Linked DNA regions of Homo sapiens. The protein of the gene in region 1 interacts with the protein of each later gene in a biochemical or structural test. Each region holds a gene or a part of one and is shown on either strand. Other genes may lie near its edges. The genes, in order: PGF, NRP1 and FLT1.

What was found.
Region 2: the proteins of PGF (region 1) and NRP1 form a complex in vitro, tested with the Homo sapiens proteins (one study listed by BioGRID).
Region 3: the proteins of PGF (region 1) and FLT1 are reported together in a solved structure, tested with the Homo sapiens proteins (2 studies listed by BioGRID and IntAct, with this or other methods).

Annotation. Positions count from the first base shown.
Region 1 is NC_000014.9:74,952,110-74,960,631, forward strand, and holds the start of PGF (placenta growth factor isoform 1 precursor), read right to left. Parts: upstream 3,489-8,522; 5' UTR 3,134-3,488; coding exon 3,059-3,133; intron 1,838-3,058; coding exon 1,795-1,837; intron 1-1,794. UniProt on the Homo sapiens protein: Growth factor active in angiogenesis and endothelial cell growth, stimulating their proliferation and migration. It binds to the receptor FLT1/VEGFR-1. Isoform PlGF-2 binds NRP1/neuropilin-1 and NRP2/neuropilin-2 in a heparin-dependent manner.
Region 2 is NC_000010.11:33,177,019-33,185,063, reverse strand, and holds the end of NRP1 (neuropilin-1 isoform a precursor), read left to right. Parts: intron 1-2,315; coding exon 2,316-2,366; intron 2,367-4,698; coding exon 4,699-4,988; 3' UTR 4,989-7,571; downstream 7,572-8,045. UniProt on the Homo sapiens protein: Cell-surface receptor involved in the development of the cardiovascular system, in angiogenesis, in the formation of certain neuronal circuits and in organogenesis outside the nervous system. Mediates the chemorepulsant activity of semaphorins.
Region 3 is NC_000013.11:28,299,589-28,303,916, reverse strand, and holds the end of FLT1 (vascular endothelial growth factor receptor 1 isoform 1 precursor), read left to right. Parts: intron 1-548; coding exon 549-750; 3' UTR 751-3,571; downstream 3,572-4,328. UniProt on the Homo sapiens protein: Tyrosine-protein kinase that acts as a cell-surface receptor for VEGFA, VEGFB and PGF, and plays an essential role in the development of embryonic vasculature, the regulation of angiogenesis, cell survival, cell migration, macrophage function, chemotaxis, and cancer cell invasion.

The DNA.
Region 1 (8,522 bases):
TGTGCCCTCAGCTCTCTCGCCAGCCCTGTGAGTGAGCCTCCCACCTGCCTACCTACCACCTGGGATGGGGGAGACCCCAGGAGAGAAATGCTTAATCCTGAGAGCAAGTTTCTGTGGAGGGCACTGGAGACGGGCCACAGGGCTGGGCAGAGCCACTGGCCACCAGCCCAAGCCCACAAGTGTCCTCTCCATGGTCACTGGCAGGGCACACAGACAGCCTGCCACAAGGGACACCCTGCTCATGCCCGCTCAGCCACGGAGCTATTGGGAGCACTTGGTTCTGCCAGATCCATGAGGAGTGTCTGAGGCTTGGGGCGACCCCCAGGGCCTCTCTGAGCCTCAGGGCCTGCCTGCATCTGTAAAAATGGAGTACAACCCCTTCCTACTTCACAGCCTGTGGTCAAAACAGAATGACAGAAAATGCCTAACATTGTTACCGTGAATAGTAATAGTAAAAATCAATGCCCATGGCTGGCCATGCTGTCTCTGGCTGTGGTGTTAACAGGTGGGGATGCCATTTTCAGATTTTGAGAGCTGGGGTGCAAAGCTCGTTGTACTTCTCCCGGTCAGATTGCAGACTCCCTGATTGATAAGTGTGACAGGAGAGCTGACCTAATGAATCTACACTTCCAGGCCTCCCCACCTCAAATCCTGGGTGATATGTACACCCATTTCTCCTCCCTGGAGTCAGAGGACAAGTCCCTTTTTCAATCTCGGAAAAAGAAGAAACCATAGACATCATGTAGCCAAGGCTCCCATTTTACAGATGAGAAAACTGAGGCTAAGGCATCTTTGGTAGCTGTGGCCTGACCTACACTAAAAGCACCAAAAAGGGCATAGTGTGGAGGTAGGGGATGGGTCCTTCCCCAAATCCCAAGGAGCATAATGTTGTGCTGGTTCCAGAGGCACAGCAAGGGAGGCATCCATGAGGTCAAGGGCAGCTACCTCCTCTACCTGCTCAGGGGTCTAGGGGCCTAAGCCTTAGGTGTCAGAGTATGGCCAGGCCCGGGAGAGGCGGGCTGCCAGGCAGGCAGCCCAGCAGAGGGTGTTCCCAGCACGCAGATGGCTATCACGCGTGTGCGTGTGCATGTCCCTACATGCCCACTCTCCCATGGCGCAGGGGAAACCTCAGCGGTGGTGTGTGGCCACTTTGCACGTCTTGGAGAGGCAGGGAGGGAGGAGCGAGGTAGGGGGCCTGGCATGGGCCTCCTGCCTTCTGTACATATGTCTCTTTGGCAAACGTCTCGTTGCCCTTTGAAGACTCCCTCTTGATGCAACCAGGGCGGGGAGTGGAGGGGCCAGGGAGGGCGCGACTATGTTCTGTCTGTTTATAATCAATGGAAACGCATGGTCAGATCCCGGCAGTTCCACCAGGGCTGGGCTGCTGGGGAGGGCCCCTCACCCATTCCTGATCCTCTTGACTGCCCACTGCATTCAGCTCCCAGACCCCCATTCTGGCCCCTGGCACTCACTCCCCACCCTGTCCTCCAAGACCCCATCCATACCCTTAAATCATGCTGGGGAAGGGCTCTGAGCCAGCTGGATGAACCCTGGCTATACTGGCCCCAGCCCCACTCTCCGTGTGCTGGTGACTCCAGCCCACACCTCTCTAGTCTCTGGGTCACCATGAGGGGATCTCTTAGGCCCTGCCAAAGTCATCACCCAGCATGTCTAGCTTGTAGGCTCTCCCCAGCTTTTATCAACCTGCACCCACGCTTCATGCCACACCTGGGCTTGGGAGAAAGGAAGAGAGGGGCTTGGGGAGCATGCGTACCCCCAGCCTGGCCAGCTTACCTTCCACCTCTGACGAGCCGTTCCCAGCAGACAAGGCCCACTGCTATGGACAGAAAAGTGCAGAGGTGAGCTGGGGGTACCTTGGAGCTCTGCACTCTTGGGCCAAGTGTGATGGCAAGAAGGTAGGGGCCCCTCTGGGTTCCTTCCCACTTGCTGCACATGCTCTGCCCTGTCTCAGAGCAGCCTGAGTACCACTAAAAACTCACTGGACCCTGGGTAGGTTAGGTCCCACCCCTCTCTGGCCTCAGTTTTCCTCATTTGGAAAAGGATGGGAGGCTAGAAGCTTTTGGAGACCCTTGGCCTGCTGCATCCCAAAGATCTTCCAATCCTGCGGGTCTGCCTTCTACCCAGCCCCCAGGCCAACCCTGCTGGGCCCTGCACAGCCCGCCTTGGCTGGGTGCCAGAGCCCAGGGGGAGGTGATCAGCTGGTGGGAGCTGAGGGGCTGGAGCGGGTGGCGCCATGAGCTGGTGCAGCCGGTAACGTTACACCTCTGGCCAGCCCTGCAGCAGGCAGGCGGGTGGCTGGGCTGCTCGGACTCCTCAGGGACTGCCCAGCCCACTCCTACTCTTGGGCTGGGGCTGGGGACTCCCAGGGCAGTGGGACAACGCAGTGGGAAGGCAGTTCATTGGCTTTGTCAGGATTTCACTGCCCAAGCTGGCTCCCAGCCAGACTCACCCGGCTCCTGGGAAAAGGGCCCTGCTCACTTCCCCAGGCCCTGCACTCAGGACCTCCGGCCACCCACCCAGGAGAAAAGGCACAGCGAGACCCCTTGTCTCGTCCCCAGCCCACCCAGGAGCCCACGGCTCAGTCCTGAGCCCTGGTGGGGGCAGGGCCAGCCTCCCCACCAACAGCTTCTTCAGCTGGCTCCTCCGCCACCCCCACCAGGCCAGGTCAGAGGTCCTGGGGACGCCTGGTTGGCCATGGGGCCTCGACCCTGACCACAAGGCCAGGGACCCGCCTGGGATTAGTGGACAGATGCTTTTAGCAAAGCCACCAGGGCTCCAGGGGCCAGACAGGAAACCTCCCTCCCTCCCTCCCTCCCTGTGGCTTCCCTGCCCCCACCAAGACAGCCCCCAGGACCTGGGGGACAGCCAGCCTGAGGTCTCTTCCCAAACGAAAGAAGTCCAGCCTGGCCTTTAGGAAGTGTGTGGACATCCTTGGAGTTGCTGCTCCCTGGAGTGGGTCTGTGATTTCAGAGTCCCATGCTTCCAGTGCTGGGATGGGGAGGTCTGGGGAGCCAGGCTAGGTGGGGGTAGCTCTTACCTGGGGGGGCACAGCAGGCAGCGCCAGCCCGGCCAGGAGCTGCAGGAAGCAAGGGAACAGCCTCATGACCGGCATCTTCTCAGACGTCCCGAGCCAGGGGGCTCCGAGGGAAAACCACCATGCTCATCCCCCGGGGAGCCCCTGGCACAGGAGGAGAAGAGCTGAGTGGGGGGCTGGACGCCTCCCTCACTGCTGCCCCGAGGCCCCGGCCGGTGGTTCGAGCATCTTCTGGAAGCCTTGCGGAGTCAGGAGCCCGTAGGTAAGGCTGTGGCTGGGGAACCCGACGGGGAGCGGCCCGGCGGGGCGGGGCGCCGAGGGGCAGGCGGGTCCCGGGGATGGTCCGTCGGGCGCCCAGTGCCACTCCAGGTCCTCCCGTAGCTGGGCGGCCGTCCGTCGATGCAGTTTCCTCCGCAGACAGCAGCTCCCTTCTGAGACTGCAGCCGGTCCGCGCCTGGGTTTCAGGGACTGAGCCGGGGCGGGGCTCCGGGCCGGCCCCGCCCACCGCAGACGAGGTTCCCGAGCCGAGTTCCCGGAGCGCCCGGTCAGCCCGCAGCGCCCGGCCAGCCCGCAGCGCCGGAGCCCGCAGTGCGTGCGAGGGGCTCTCGGCAGGTCCAGACGCCTCGCCGAGCCCAGCCCGCAGCTCCCCGGGCCGCGCCGCGCCCGCCCACAGGGCCCACAGCCCTGCTTCGGCTCTCAGGGCGGTCACCTGGGATGGGGGCATCCAGGAGTCCAGCGTCAGCCGTCAAGGCTCATGATCTAACCGCCTCTGCAGGAAGGGCCGTCCGGGATGCCTGGGAAGGCAGCCATGCCCACACCCCTAGGGGGCCAAGGGATTCCTAGCCAGGTTATATAGATGAAGAAACCGAGGCTCCGAGAGCACCCCTGCCTGCATATGTCGAATGGACATAGGCATTCTTGGAAAGTGTGTGTGTGTTGTGTGTGTGCGCGCATCTGTGTGTCCGAGGAACTGGCAGAGACAAAACCCAAGCCTACGTGACTCCAGAACTCTAACCCGACCTACCACCCTCCTAGCCAGGCACGGACACAGTGGGCCTCCCACAGGAAACCTCTCAGGGCACCTGGCTGGAGGATCAGGCCTGTTGCCTCCTTGGGAAGCAGTCTTCCCAGGCCCTCCCTGCGGGGCAGCCCCCTGTGGTAGAGAGTGGTCTCACTCAGGCATCTCCTCCTGGTCCCTGGCCGAGGAGGAACTGTACGCTGCGCGGGGGTCTGTGTGCATCTGCGCGTGTGCATGGGCATTTGCGGGTCTGTGAATATCCATGAGCGGTGCATCTGAGCCTCTGTGTGGTCTGAGTACGTGTGACTACTGTACCTCCAAATACGCCTCTGTGTGGGGGTCAGGTCTCTCTGTATCTCTGTATGCTTGTGTGATCTGTTCGTGTCCGCTGTGTATCTGGGTGTGTTTGGAAGTGTCTGAATGTGTATCTTTCGGTGGGACTGTGAGTCTGCACGCCTGCCTGTCTCTGCGTGTGTGTGTCTGTCTCTGTGGGTGAAGACTGTGCCTCTCTCTCTGCGTTTGTGTGTGCCCTCCCTTGGTTCTGGATCTTTCTTTACCACCACTCCTCTCACTGCCTTCTGTGTCCAGCTCCCAGGCTGCAGGAACCTGGCAGGACTGGGAGTCACGAGTTGGCTGGGCCTGGGGCTGGTGGGTGGCTGTGGGGGAGGAGCGAGGCCTGGGAAGTGGCCCCTACAGCTCACATTCCAGCCAAGAGCAGGGAGGCCAGGGCAGCCCCAGCTCTCACCCCAGTGACCTCTGCGTCCACTGCCTGCCTGCCTGCCCACCCACGAGGGGCTGCCAGAGATGCAGCCTGCCTGCCTGGCCGGCCCTAAGCCTGGAGGTTCAGGAGGCGGGGGCCAGTCACCAGCTGGCTAAGCGGGGTCTGCAAGGAACATCCTGACGAGCTTCAAACAAGCTGGGGTTCGTGGGGTAGACAAACTGCTTCCTGGGCCCAGAATCATTGTGGAGGGTCACTGTGCATGTGTGTGAGGGTGAGTAGGTGTGTGTTTGTGCATATATGTATTGTATATGTTGCCCATAACATCTTTGTATACATACACGTGTTTGTGTGTGTCTTTAGTTTGGGTATGGATTTGTGTATGTGGGCACAGGTGTGTATTGTGCACAAGTGTGTGCGCGTGTGCTTAAGTATCTTCATTGTATATGCTTGTCTATAACTGAGTGTTTCTAGCACTTATGCATGGGATGTGTCTATTGTGTATGAGTTTGTATTTTTTTTTTTTTTTTCTGAGACAGAGTCTTGCTCTGTCGCCTAGGCTGGTAGACAGTGGCGCAATCTCGGCTCACTGCAACATCTGCCTCATGGGTTCAAGCGATTCTTGTGCCTCAGCCTCCCAAGTAGCTGGGATTGCAGGTGTACACCACCATGCCTGGCTAATTTTTGTATTTTTAGTAGAGACAGGTTTTTGTCATGTTGGCCAGACTGGTCGAGAACTCCTGGTCTCAAGTGATCCACCCACCTCAGTCTCCCAAAGTGCTGGGATTACAGGTGTGAGCCACCGCGCCCAGCCTGTATTCATTAATTTGTTTTTTCATTTGGCATGTATTGCCTGAGCCCTGCTATGCTCCAGGAACTGCTCTAGGTGCTAGGGATATGATATGGAGGGTCTCTCTGAGTTTACATTCATGGAGTAGGGGGATACCGATGGCTGGGGATGCCGAAGTTCTCTTTCCTGAGTGAACTCAACACCTTGGGCGAAGTCTGTGGTTCCCACAAGTGCACCTCAGTCCTTCATCACTAAATTGGGGACCATACCCTTCTAAACCCAGCTTCCTGGGCTGTGAGATGAATTAGCCTAGGGTAGGCTCAGCGGCAGAGACCAAGGAGACTCTAACATTTCCATGGATTGAATCAAAGTTTGTTCTTGCTCACATCCAGTCCAGAGCAGCTGTGCTAGTAATTCTGCTCCCTTGTTTTTTTTTTAAATTTTTGTAATTTTAATTTTAATTTTTAGAAACGAGGTCTTGCTCTCTCTCCCAGGCTACAGTGCACTGGTGTAGCACTGGCTATAGCTCACTGCAGCCTCCAATTCCTGGGCTCAAGGGATCCTCCCGCCTCAGCCTCCAGAATAACTGGGTCTACAGGTGTGTGCTACCATGCCCAGTTAATTTAAAAACTTTTTTTTTTTGGGGGTAAAGACAGGGTCTTGCCATCTTGCCCAGGCTGTGCTCCTTTGTACACTGGCCCCACTATTGACCAGCCACATCGCCTCAAGCAGCTTCCTTTGCTTTCAGAGCCCCAGCTTCCTCCATCTGTAGGAGTGGGAATGATAACAGTACTTACCTCATAGGGTTGTGCGAGGACTGAGAAAGCACCTTTGGTGCAAAGAATGGTAGCAATTGATCACGATTTCTAATTTAATTTTTGACTTGTATTAGAGAAATAAAAATACTACAGTTAGACCAGGTGCAGTGGCTCACGCCTGTAATCCCAACACTTTGGGAGGCCAAGAAGGACAGATCACCTGAGATTAGGAGTTCGAGACCCGCCTGGCAAACATGGTAAAACCCCGTCTCTACTTAAAATACAAAAATTAACTGGGCGTGGTGGGAGGCACCTGTAATCCTAGCTACTCGGGAGGCTGAGGCAGGAGAATCACTTGAACTCAGGAGGCAGAGGTTTCAGTGAGCCGAGATCGTGCCACTGCACTCCAGTCTGGACGACAGAGTAGAACTCCATCTCAAAAAAACAAACCAAAACAAACAAACAAAAAACAAACTACAGTTACAGAGCAGAGTCCTGTAGCATGGACATGAGATAGAAAATAAAGAATCTTATGCTTCTGCCTGTGGCAGTGGAGAAAGAAAATGGAGCGATTTGCATAGGTGCACACAAACACTAATTCTCACCATCACAGTGCAGGCTCTCAATCCTCAACTGTCACTGAGGCCCTTGAAGTAGACCCAGGTGCTTAGGGGGTGGCAGTCAGTGCCCACAACTCAACACTTAACTGTTTATCACCACAATCTCTTGCTGTTGTTTCAGGGAGAGAAGTAATATTTATTGAACATCTATTATATGCCAAACAGTGTGCTTGGTGCTCTAACCACCTTGACTCATTGAATTCTGATCACATTGTAGTGGTAGGTTTTAATTATTTCCATTTTGAAGATGGAAAGATGGAGGCCCAGGGAGTTTATGTAATTTTCCAATAGTCGTTTAGCTACTTAAAAAGGAACAGTGATGGGGATCAAGCCGAGATCTTTCTCCAAAGGTCTTTCCAGTGAACCTAAGCGCTAGCTCCCAACCTTACTGCAAGGACGTTGAAGGTGAGGGCTGATGTCTTGAGCCGTTTCTGGGTCTTCCCCATGCTGGAGCAGAATGGATGCTTGACAGACTTGGGATGGTTGATGTGTGGAAGGAAGGAGCCCTGATTTCAGGAGCTGACTCTTATGCGGGGAGTCGGGCAGATACAGATAAACATGAGGGGTTGGGTGTGGAAACACTGGGCCATGACAATGCAGTGGACCCTGAGCAGTCATGGCTTCCAGTCTGCAGGCCAGCCCCTGGCCCCCAAGGCATCCTGCAAACACAGTTTCCCATATTATTAGTCATCGTGTTAGCCTGAAACACCTGCCCCAACCCATCCCAGCTTGTAGGCTTTCAGCTTCCTGACTCACTTCCCCATTTTCTAGCCATTTTCCCATTTTCTAGCCTCTTTGTTGTCTTGGCCCTATGAACTTTTCCCCAGTGATGACTTGTCCTCTCTTAACGACAATTCAGCACCTGCCTCTGGAGAGGTGTCTCAAGTGGTCCTGGGTAAACACCCTCTGCTTCTGACCTTGTTCCTGAGTCCCGGACTTGGGTGGCTGAGAAGTGTAGCATCCAAGGATTATCTTCCCCTTCATGACTGGTAGAAAGGGAAACAGTGGGCAGCTCTGGGCCAAGGGCCTTTTCACTTTATAGACTGAACCTGCATTATAGCCAGCAGCTACTCAAAGCTGCTAGCAAGCAGATGCTTGGTTGGCCTCTGCCTTCTTGCCCTGCCTCCTGGGCTGCGATTTCCTGTGGACCCACCCCAGCCTCCATCCTGAGCTCTTCTTCTCTTTATGCACTTGTTCTAGGCAGGATTCCATGGCTTCCCTGGCAACCAGCACTGGGTAAGACATCCCTGGTACAGGTTCCCACAGTACCTTGAATTCCCCTCCATCATGGCACCTGGCCTTCAGTATCACAATTGCCCAGTTGCTTATCTGTCTTGCCTAAAAGATGGTAAGATCTAAGAGGGCAGGTACTGTGTCTCTTGTTTACCCTTGTAGCCTCCACACCTTGCTCAGTGTCTGGGACATAGTAGGCCTTAATTGATATGTTTTGAGTTGGATCAATCCTCAGAGACTAGACCTTCCGCATGGGGAAAATGTCCCAAGTCTGGCCCTCCCTTACTCACGTGCCCTTCAGCTGTTCAGAGGTGCCCCCTCCTAGACCCC
Region 2 (8,045 bases), on another chromosome or scaffold:
CTTGTACTAGGTGGATGTAAGACATAGAAAACCAATTCATATTCCCTAGTTCTTGATATATAATTACAAATAGCATTACTAATGGCAGTGTAATAGCACAGTAATTAGTCTTCAGCTCCATTTGCTACATTGAAACTTTTGTTATACATCATTATATAATAGGATGTTAATTATAACAAAATGGGATAAGCCTATTGGGCCAATTTAAGACAAAGGAGGTCTGTTGGCTGTAATGGGGGTTTTGGTCACTTCAGCAACTTACAAAGCTTTTATTATATAATATATTGAATATATATAATCCCTAAAGCGGCAATAATTTGATAGGATCCATCGAAGAAATTGGGCAAAAAGAAAGGAGCAATGAATAAAGGCTTGCTTCTTCATACTATTAAAGGGAATCTGCTTAGTGCTGCACTATTTAGCAAATCTTCACAAGAATGATAAGGCTTAATAGTTTAGTTGCAACTCCTTTACAAATTACCCACATCCATATCTACACTGCTGTAAAAATGTGTATTTCATGTAGTAACACAGTGTCTGTGATTTCTTCACTTCTCCATTCCAAAGTGAGAGTGATGATGGTGATGTTTTGGGATGTGAGAACAAACTCCACAGACTAAAACAAAGAAACGAAATTAAATTCAGTTCAACAAGTTCTAACGAAATTCAATTCGGTTCAACAAGTTCTAACTGACTACATACCATATGCAAAGCAGCATGCGGATGCTCCAGTGAAAGTACATGGCTGAGCCGGGTGCAGTGGCTCACGTCTGTCATCCCAGCACTTTGGGAGGCCGAGGCAGGAGGATCATTTGAGATCAGGAGTTTAGGACCAGCCTGGCCAACATGGCAAAACCCCATCTCTACTAAAAAATACAAAAATTAGCTGGGCGTGGTGGCACGCAGCTGTAGTAATCCCAGCTACTCGGAAGGCTGAGGCAGGAGAATTGCTTGAACCCAGGAGGCGGAAGTTGCAGTGAGCCAAGGTCATACCATTGCACTCCAGCCTAGGCCACAGAGCAAGACCCCATTTCAAAAAAAAGAAAAAAGAAGGAAGGAAGGAAGGGAGAAAAGAAAAGAAAGCACATAGTTGAGACAATTCTATGGGACTTTTTCTTTTCTTGTGATTTGTCCATTTAGCTGTAGTTGCTGCCAGACATTGTAGTGGGAAATTCACAACTACGGCTCCATTAAACCACTTTGTTTATTTGTTTATGCTGCTACCAATAAAAATATGTGTAAGACAATTGTACAATGATTCATCAAATATGCATCCTTGAACATCTGGGTGTGGATGCTATGAGATTATCAACTATTTATTAATCTTTCATTCATTCATACATAGAACAAATATCTATTAAAGCACCTATGATGTGCTAGACACTGTTGTAAATGCTGGAATACAGCAGTGGACAAAGCACTCAAAAATTCCTGCTCTGTACTTAGTACCACAGGAATACTGGAACTCTACTTCTTCAATAGCTATTTTATGTATTTATCTATTTTTGTAATACACAGGGCACAGTCTCTTGCCTCAAAGAGTTGGCATACTATTCGAGAAGCCAAACTAACGCACACTAAATTTAGGAAGCAGTTATCTACAAACTATAGGATGGTCACCATATGTACGAATCTACTTCAGTAGAACCTATATTCACCAGATTTTTTTCCACATTTCAGATGCCAAAACCATGTCTCTTCCCCCTTCTCTTCTTTTTTTTTTTTTTTAAATTTGTTGTTGTTGTTTTTGCTTTTTTGAGACAGGCTCTTGCTTCCGTCACCCAGGGTGGAGTGCAGTGGCACCATCATGGCTCACTGTAAACTCCATCTCCTGGGCACAAGCTCTCCTTCCGCCTCAGCCTCCTAAGCAGCTGGAAAGCTAATTTTTTTATTTTTGTAGAGATGGGATCTCACTATGTTGCCCAGGCTGGTCCTAAACTCCTAGCCTAATGTGGTTCTCCTGCCTTGCCCTCTCAAAGTGCTGGAATTATAGGCACGAGCCAGCATACCCAGCCCACCCTTGTCTCCTAAAACAACAGATTCTGCTAGCAGCAGTGCTACCTGGATTTAGATATGGCACCTTAAAGGCAGTGTTGTGATGTCACATTACCAATTTCCCGGTCATTTAACATTGCCTCTTTATTGATCTGTTTGGTGATTTCTGATTGAACTAAAAAATCCAAAAGGAGCCCAGTAGACACGTGTGTGTGTGTGTGTGTGTGTGTGTGTGCATGTACCTAAAGGTTTGTGTAGTTTGGTGCATTATATTTTGATGGCAGTTCAAATATCTCTTTCAATTTTGTTTGACTTGTCAGAACCAGCAGACCTGGATAAAAAGAACCCAGAAATTAAAATTGATGAAACAGGTAAATTTGTCTTGCTGACCAATTTTTAAAAAATTTTACTATGGCTTTCATTGTGTTTATGAAGAAACTTTGTGGAACTCTAATACACTGGTATGTCAAAAAGTTCAAATAAAAAACATCTATGCCCATGGCCCTGGGTTGGTGCTGTGGATCGGATTGTGCTCACAGAGTACCCACTTCCGAGCTGCCCATAAGACTTGGGGAGCCTCGGTGACGGGTCCTGCTTGTACACCTGGTTGAGCCTGGGAAGTGTGCTCACCCTGGCCCTTCCCTGCCCAGTCTAGAGGTGGAACATAAAGGATAATCAGCTCAAACACACTCAGTTTATCACTACAAAGACAGAAAATTAGTGAAGACTATTTCCATACACAGTTATTTGAAACCAACCGAAATTCTTCTGTTTGTTGATATCCAGCTAGGATCTTTAAGAGACCAGAGCCCAATTTCTGAGATAATCCATTGTGTTTGATTCATCTTTTCCCATCTTCCTCTACTAGAACCTTGGTTTTGTGATGATGATGATGATGATAAGAAGGATTTATTGAAGAGTTAGTATGTTCTGAGCACTTTACTTACCTGATCTTTTTCTTTTCTTTTTTTCTTGAGACAGAGTCTGTCTCTGTCACCCAGGCTTGGAGTGCAGTGGCGTGATCTCAGCTCACTGCAGCCTCCACCTGCCAGGTTCAAGCGATTTTCCTGCCTCAACCTTCCGAGCAGACTACAGGCCCACACCACCACACTCAACTTATTTTTTTGTCTTTTGTAAGGTGGAGTTTCACCATGTTGCCCAGGCTGGTCTTGAATTCCTTAGCTTAAGCAATTCCCTGGCCTCAGCCTCCTAAAGTGCTGGGATTACAGGCGTGAGCCACTGCACCCGTCCTACATACCTTATCTTATTTAATCCTCACAGCAGCTCTAGGGGTTGTATTTGTCCCCATTTTACAGATAGTGAGACTGAAACTTAAGTAGCATAGCTAATTAGGTGGTAGCCTCACACTTTAGCCTGATGAACTATAAATGTGTGTTTTTGCTGAACGCTGCTTTGTGATCAAATGCAAGACCTTTGATCAGAGTTAGGCCTTGCCTGGTATTAGTCTATTCCCAGAAGTTTCCAGATCTCCCAGCCAGCATTGTGGGCTGTTGGACACTTGCTCCACCATCACTCACAGCTGCTGTGTGGATGGTGCTGCACCCTTATCATCAATGCATGTCAGCATCTGTTGCCCTTAGAAATGGGATCCTACTCTATGGCCAGCCGTGGACTTCATAGAGACAAATAAATATTGCACCTTGCTGTTAGTAATATGAACACATTACCAAGTCCACACAGAGATGTAAACTTTATTAGAGGTTGTTTCAAAACAATATTTCATCAAGGGAGAGAGTATTAATATGCCCCAAGGCTTGTTTTCTCTTGGTTAGGGATTTGCATCTCATATTTTTAGTTTTCTTTGATTGGAATCTTTGTTGATCAGAACACCATTAAGTAAACCCCAGGCATATTGTGCGTTAACATTTTCATCCCGTTTCTAGTACCAGGTAATTAGGCTCAAAGCTCCCATGTTAACAATTTCTCCTGTTCCACTCCAAAGAAAACAAGTCCCCAGTGACTGAGCTGCAGAGCAGTGCAACTGTCTCCAGTTAAACTACCAGGGCTGCAAAGATGCTGATTATTAGTAAATGTCTTCTATTTGGCATGACAGACATGGTTTCTCGATTTGAGCCACACTCTGTTTACATGTCAGCAGCAAGCATTCTCTTGTTCTAAAAAATCACTCCTTCTTTACTGAAACTACTGTAGACTTTGGGCAAAATTCGTTTCACTTGAAGATTTTCCATATGGGAGAACAAACACATGCATAAACCATGCCAGATCCTGGAAACAGCACCACGTAGAAGGGCAGCCATGAAGGTTTTTCTTGTGCCTGTTTTGGGGTTAGGTACATGCACTGGGAATGGTAAAATCCCCTTGCTAGACTAATGTGTGACTAAGCATTTTGCAAAACTTAATGATCACCTATCTAGCCAAGGACTGTAAACACAGATTACAATCTAGGACAGATGGGGCTGCATGAAATCTGAGTTAGATGAGCAAGGAACCTCCCAGTTGATCCAGAATGGGTTGTTTCCACGTGCTAAGCAGTCTGTCAGAAGCCCCAGCGCCCACTCCCCTCTACCACCTCCCACACTTCTGTTCCCAACAATGAGTCAGATATGACAGGCAAAACTGGGGTGTGTGATTTGCTCCTGTTTCGTTCCTTTCTATTTTTCTGTCTGCTTTCATCTGGTCTGTTGGCGGTGCTCACGGAGACAATATTGTTTTTTTCCATAGGGAGCACGCCAGGATACGAAGGTGAAGGAGAAGGTGACAAGAACATCTCCAGGAAGCCAGGCAATGTGTTGAAGACCTTAGACCCCATCCTCATCACCATCATAGCCATGAGTGCCCTGGGGGTCCTCCTGGGGGCTGTCTGTGGGGTCGTGCTGTACTGTGCCTGTTGGCATAATGGGATGTCAGAAAGAAACTTGTCTGCCCTGGAGAACTATAACTTTGAACTTGTGGATGGTGTGAAGTTGAAAAAAGACAAACTGAATACACAGAGTACTTATTCGGAGGCATGAAGGCAGACAGAGATGAAAAGACAGTCAAAGGACGGAAGTGGAAGGACGGGAGTGAGCTGGGGAGCTGTTGATCTTTCACTATACAGGCTGGGAAGTGTGTTGATGACCACTGAGCCAGGCTTTTCTCAGGAGCTTCAATGAGTATGGCCGACAGACATGGACAAGGAGCTGTGTTCACCATCGGACTCATGTGCAGTCAGCTTTTTTCCTGTTGGTTTCATTTGAATAATCAGATGCTGGTGTTGAGACCAAGTATGATTGACATAATCATTCATTTCGACCCCTCCTGCCCCTCTCTCTCTCTCTCCTCTCCCCTTTGTGGATTCTTTTTGGAAACTGAGCGAAATCCAAGATGCTGGCACCAAGCGTATTCCGTGTGGCCCTTTGGATGGACATGCTACCTGAAACCCAGTGCCCAGAATATACTAGAATCACCGCATTTCAGTGGACTCCTGAAGTTGTACTTGTGTATAATTGCCCGCGTCGTGCATAGGCAAAGAAGGATTAGGCTGTTTTCTTTTTAAAGTACTGTAGCCTCAGTACTGGTGTAGTGTGTCAGCTCTGTTTACGAAGCAATACTGTCCAGTTTTCTTGCTGTTTTTCCGGTGTTGTACTAAACCTCGTGCTTGTGAACTCCATACAGAAAACGGTGCCATCCCTGAACACGGCTGGCCACTGGGTATACTGCTGACAACCGCAACAACAAAAACACAAATCCTTGGCACTGGCTAGTCTATGTCCTCTCAAGTGCCTTTTTGTTTGTACTGGTTCATTGTGTTACATTAACGACCCACTCTGCTTCTTGCTGGTGAAAGCCCTGCTCTTTAATCAAACTCTGGTGGCCCACTGACTAAGAAGAAAGTTTATTTTCGTGTGAGATGCCAGCCCCTCCGGGCAGGCAAGGGCTCTGAAGATTTGGCAACGTGGCTTAATTGTTCTGCTTTTTCTGTAGTTCAATTTCATGTTTCTTGACCCTTTTGTATAAAGCTACAATATTCTCTCTTATTGTTCTTTCATATGGAATGTATTTTCAAATGTAAACTCTCTTCTCTTTCTCTCTCCTATCTCTCTGTCTTTTTTCTCTCTTAGAATTGGAGGATTTGCCATTGTCCAGGAAAGAAACTTGCAGCTTTAACCTGCTGGGAATGGCAAACGATTTTACTAGACTTTATGTTTAAAAATAAATAAATAAGGGAAATTCCTAACTTTGCCCTCCAAAGTCTAACTTTGGTTTTCTTGTTAACTGGTTAAAGTGACAGTATCTTTTTTCCTTATCTATTCTATTCAAAATGACCTTTGATAGAAATGTTGGCATTTAGTAGAAATAGTGATAAGTTGAGGAAAGAAATAATACAAATTGGCTTTCAAGTGAGACCCAAAGGAAGAACTGGATAAAATCTTCCAAATCCAAAAGCATGAGATTTTTCTATCCAAATATGCAAAAATGACCCAAGAGAACTTTCTTATTTTGCTACTGAGTCACACAAGGGAAGTGGAAGGAAGAACAGTTAATTTAAGAATGAAACTATAAATCCTGATGCCTGGGGGTCAAGTATTTTAAGATAAGAGGGGGAAAAACACATAAAGTCAAACAAATGTTTTAAAAATTCATAACAGCAACCTTGAAAAAATAGACTTAAATGAATGCTTCTAGAAACTTCCAGCGGCTCACAAAGAATAAGCCTGCCTTAGGGCTGGCAACATCTAAGCCTCTAACAGCACAGGGAAGCAAATATCTTACCAGGCAGCCTATGAATTAACCCAAAGAAGCTTTGGTTGGTTTTGGTGGATTTTTATCATGCCATGTTGGACATGAGATTTTTTAGATCTTCCTTCCCACATTGCTAGACGTCTCACTCAAAGACATTTGTTGGGAGTCACATTTGCATCATAGACGAGACAGTCCATTCATCTTAGTTAAATTGGATTGAGAATGCCTTTTGTTTCCAGGAAAATATTGATCACCATGAAAGAAGAATAGTTTTTTGTCCCCAGAGACATTCATTTAGTTGATATAATCCTACCAGAAGGAAAGCACTAAGAAACACTCGTTTGTTGTTTTTAAAGGCAACAGACTTAAAGTTGTCCTCAGCCAAGGAAAAATGATACTGCAACTTTAAAATTTAAAGTATCTTGCACTGATAAATATATTTAAAAATTATATGTTTATAAAGTTATTAATTTGTAAAGGCAGTGTTACAAAATGTTCAGTTTATATTGTTTTAGATTGTTTTGTAATTTTTAAAGGTGTAAAATAACATATTTTTTCTTTATGGAAATCTATAAAACTTTCTGTAGTAAAATGTTTTCATTTTACTGGTATATTATTGCTTCATGTTTTGTACCATCATAAGATTTTGTGCAGATTTTTTTTACAGAAATTATTATTTTCTATGACAATATGACACTTGTAAATTGTTGTTTCAAAATGAACAGCGAAGCCTTAACTTTAAATGACATTTGTATTCTCAGACACTGAGTAGCATAAAAACCACATAGAACTGAACTGTAACTTAAATTCCAAACTATGACTACTACATTCCAAAGAAACAGTTGAATTAAACATTTTCATAAAATATCCCACACCTGATGGCTTTTATTATATTAGCACTGTTCTAGTTAAAGAAGTTGGTGACATGCCACTATCCAATAACTTCCAAGATTTTTAAAAATTCTCTTTTTTAAAATATCCTGATAAGGAGAGAAGATTAAGAAGACATTTTCTGAAAGTAGAATCTCAACTCACATTGGACCCTGTCATGATAAGGAATACGGAATTTGACGTTAGGAATGGGAATGATCCTAAATTGTGTGTCAAATGTTCTATATTTCATTTGGTAAAGTTTCTTTTATCATATTCACTCATAACTTGGTAAGTTTTGTTCTTGCAGAAAATAGTAATGAACCTGACAGTATTTATTCATGCACCCACGCTGCATTTAGGTAATGGGAAAAGTTGGGTATGACATTACAACTGGCTGTTTGGTAATTCTTAGGAGAGTTTTATTCCATCTAGGACCAGAATAATAGGAAAAATAATAACAATAACAAAGACAA
Region 3 (4,328 bases), on another chromosome or scaffold:
GTTTCCTCTTCTAGAACACAGGCACGACAGGCAGAGAGGCACTCACTTGTGTGTGTGGAGCTTTATTGTTTTTTGAGACTGTTGTAACAAGTTACCACTAACTTGGCAACTTACAAGAGAAATTTATTCTCTTGCAGTTCTGGAGGCCAGAAGGGATATAAAATATGAAAAATTTGAATATTTTGGAGGGTAGGAGGCATTTCTCAGCCTACCACAGAAGCTGTTTGACCCAAGAATAGGAGAGGGCTGCACCCAAGTCTTGGAGTTACTTTCCACCTGGATTATGGATTTGCGTTATCTTATCATACATTTCATACCCTCCCCCAGCCACTGTCTTTCTGCCCAATGACACCAAGCTGTTAAGAGGGAGGCCGTGTGCAGCTTTAGAACAGAGGAAATCTGACAGCAATTGAGGGGGGGGGGGTTCCAAAACCATGAACTCTAGACAGGTATGAACAAATGACCCACTCAGAAAGAGTAGATTTTAGTGTCTTTGTTTTCTAAAAAACCAATTTTGAATATTTGATTTCTTTCCTTTCTTTCTTTAGCTTGAGAGTAACCAGTAAAAGTAAGGAGTCGGGGCTGTCTGATGTCAGCAGGCCCAGTTTCTGCCATTCCAGCTGTGGGCACGTCAGCGAAGGCAAGCGCAGGTTCACCTACGACCACGCTGAGCTGGAAAGGAAAATCGCGTGCTGCTCCCCGCCCCCAGACTACAACTCGGTGGTCCTGTACTCCACCCCACCCATCTAGAGTTTGACACGAAGCCTTATTTCTAGAAGCACATGTGTATTTATACCCCCAGGAAACTAGCTTTTGCCAGTATTATGCATATATAAGTTTACACCTTTATCTTTCCATGGGAGCCAGCTGCTTTTTGTGATTTTTTTAATAGTGCTTTTTTTTTTTTGACTAACAAGAATGTAACTCCAGATAGAGAAATAGTGACAAGTGAAGAACACTACTGCTAAATCCTCATGTTACTCAGTGTTAGAGAAATCCTTCCTAAACCCAATGACTTCCCTGCTCCAACCCCCGCCACCTCAGGGCACGCAGGACCAGTTTGATTGAGGAGCTGCACTGATCACCCAATGCATCACGTACCCCACTGGGCCAGCCCTGCAGCCCAAAACCCAGGGCAACAAGCCCGTTAGCCCCAGGGATCACTGGCTGGCCTGAGCAACATCTCGGGAGTCCTCTAGCAGGCCTAAGACATGTGAGGAGGAAAAGGAAAAAAAGCAAAAAGCAAGGGAGAAAAGAGAAACCGGGAGAAGGCATGAGAAAGAATTTGAGACGCACCATGTGGGCACGGAGGGGGACGGGGCTCAGCAATGCCATTTCAGTGGCTTCCCAGCTCTGACCCTTCTACATTTGAGGGCCCAGCCAGGAGCAGATGGACAGCGATGAGGGGACATTTTCTGGATTCTGGGAGGCAAGAAAAGGACAAATATCTTTTTTGGAACTAAAGCAAATTTTAGAACTTTACCTATGGAAGTGGTTCTATGTCCATTCTCATTCGTGGCATGTTTTGATTTGTAGCACTGAGGGTGGCACTCAACTCTGAGCCCATACTTTTGGCTCCTCTAGTAAGATGCACTGAAAACTTAGCCAGAGTTAGGTTGTCTCCAGGCCATGATGGCCTTACACTGAAAATGTCACATTCTATTTTGGGTATTAATATATAGTCCAGACACTTAACTCAATTTCTTGGTATTATTCTGTTTTGCACAGTTAGTTGTGAAAGAAAGCTGAGAAGAATGAAAATGCAGTCCTGAGGAGAGGAGTTTTCTCCATATCAAAACGAGGGCTGATGGAGGAAAAAGGTCAATAAGGTCAAGGGAAAACCCCGTCTCTATACCAACCAAACCAATTCACCAACACAGTTGGGACCCAAAACACAGGAAGTCAGTCACGTTTCCTTTTCATTTAATGGGGATTCCACTATCTCACACTAATCTGAAAGGATGTGGAAGAGCATTAGCTGGCGCATATTAAGCACTTTAAGCTCCTTGAGTAAAAAGGTGGTATGTAATTTATGCAAGGTATTTCTCCAGTTGGGACTCAGGATATTAGTTAATGAGCCATCACTAGAAGAAAAGCCCATTTTCAACTGCTTTGAAACTTGCCTGGGGTCTGAGCATGATGGGAATAGGGAGACAGGGTAGGAAAGGGCGCCTACTCTTCAGGGTCTAAAGATCAAGTGGGCCTTGGATCGCTAAGCTGGCTCTGTTTGATGCTATTTATGCAAGTTAGGGTCTATGTATTTATGATGTCTGCACCTTCTGCAGCCAGTCAGAAGCTGGAGAGGCAACAGTGGATTGCTGCTTCTTGGGGAGAAGAGTATGCTTCCTTTTATCCATGTAATTTAACTGTAGAACCTGAGCTCTAAGTAACCGAAGAATGTATGCCTCTGTTCTTATGTGCCACATCCTTGTTTAAAGGCTCTCTGTATGAAGAGATGGGACCGTCATCAGCACATTCCCTAGTGAGCCTACTGGCTCCTGGCAGCGGCTTTTGTGGAAGACTCACTAGCCAGAAGAGAGGAGTGGGACAGTCCTCTCCACCAAGATCTAAATCCAAACAAAAGCAGGCTAGAGCCAGAAGAGAGGACAAATCTTTGTTCTTCCTCTTCTTTACATACGCAAACCACCTGTGACAGCTGGCAATTTTATAAATCAGGTAACTGGAAGGAGGTTAAACACAGAAAAAAGAAGACCTCAGTCAATTCTCTACTTTTTTTTTTTTTTCCAAATCAGATAATAGCCCAGCAAATAGTGATAACAAATAAAACCTTAGCTATTCATGTCTTGATTTCAATAATTAATTCTTAATCATTAAGAGACCATAATAAATACTCCTTTTCAAGAGAAAAGCAAAACCATTAGAATTGTTACTCAGCTCCTTCAAACTCAGGTTTGTAGCATACATGAGTCCATCCATCAGTCAAAGAATGGTTCCATCTGGAGTCTTAATGTAGAAAGAAAAATGGAGACTTGTAATAATGAGCTAGTTACAAAGTGCTTGTTCATTAAAATAGCACTGAAAATTGAAACATGAATTAACTGATAATATTCCAATCATTTGCCATTTATGACAAAAATGGTTGGCACTAACAAAGAACGAGCACTTCCTTTCAGAGTTTCTGAGATAATGTACGTGGAACAGTCTGGGTGGAATGGGGCTGAAACCATGTGCAAGTCTGTGTCTTGTCAGTCCAAGAAGTGACACCGAGATGTTAATTTTAGGGACCCGTGCCTTGTTTCCTAGCCCACAAGAATGCAAACATCAAACAGATACTCGCTAGCCTCATTTAAATTGATTAAAGGAGGAGTGCATCTTTGGCCGACAGTGGTGTAACTGTATGTGTGTGTGTGTGTGTGTGTGTGTGTGTGTGTGTGGGTGTATGTGTGTTTTGTGCATAACTATTTAAGGAAACTGGAATTTTAAAGTTACTTTTATACAAACCAAGAATATATGCTACAGATATAAGACAGACATGGTTTGGTCCTATATTTCTAGTCATGATGAATGTATTTTGTATACCATCTTCATATAATAAACTTCCAAAAACACATATATTTTCTCCCTGATTTGCTTGTTAAGTGTAAAAAAGAGGTCACAGGTGTCCCTGGGGGTGGAGGACTAGTGCTCTTTATTAAACACAGCACAAGAAAGATAAAGCAAATGCTGCTGAAGAGAGGGCAAAGAGGTTTCTATCGGTCCTAGAAAATGGCTGTGCTAAACAATCAGAACACTGCAACCAGTAAGTAAAAAACAAAATCAAACTAGGCAGATTGCCCAGAAAACTAAACCCTAACATCAACAGGATCATGAAACAAGTAAAGCATATGCTGGGTGTGAGTGCCAGCCGCAGAGAAAAGTGCCCTCAATTAAAAAGAGGCAGTTGTCCCCAAACACTAATTTTCAGCTGATAAATAATTAGCATAATCACAGAGGGTGTGTACACATGCTGCAGAAAACCACACAAAATAATAGGCAAAAGCTTGAAACCCAAGAATGTAAAAGTACACATGCCAGCTCTGTATTCTTCAATCTTGTTTTGTGGATTATGTCCTAGGAAAACAACTCAGGTCACTAAGTACTAGAAATTGAATAAGTGACCAACACTTTGTCTTAGAAATTGGTCATAGTATTACCCGCCTAATATCATCATAAGGAAACTAGATTGGAAAGATATTTTAAGGGGAAAAAATAGGCCTACTTTCTTTGGGACAAAGACAATAAAAATGGATAAATGACAAATCTCAGTACACTTTTAGTTAACTCAAGAGGGCAAGAGGCATTTTGTCTTCAAGAATCTGAAATCCTTT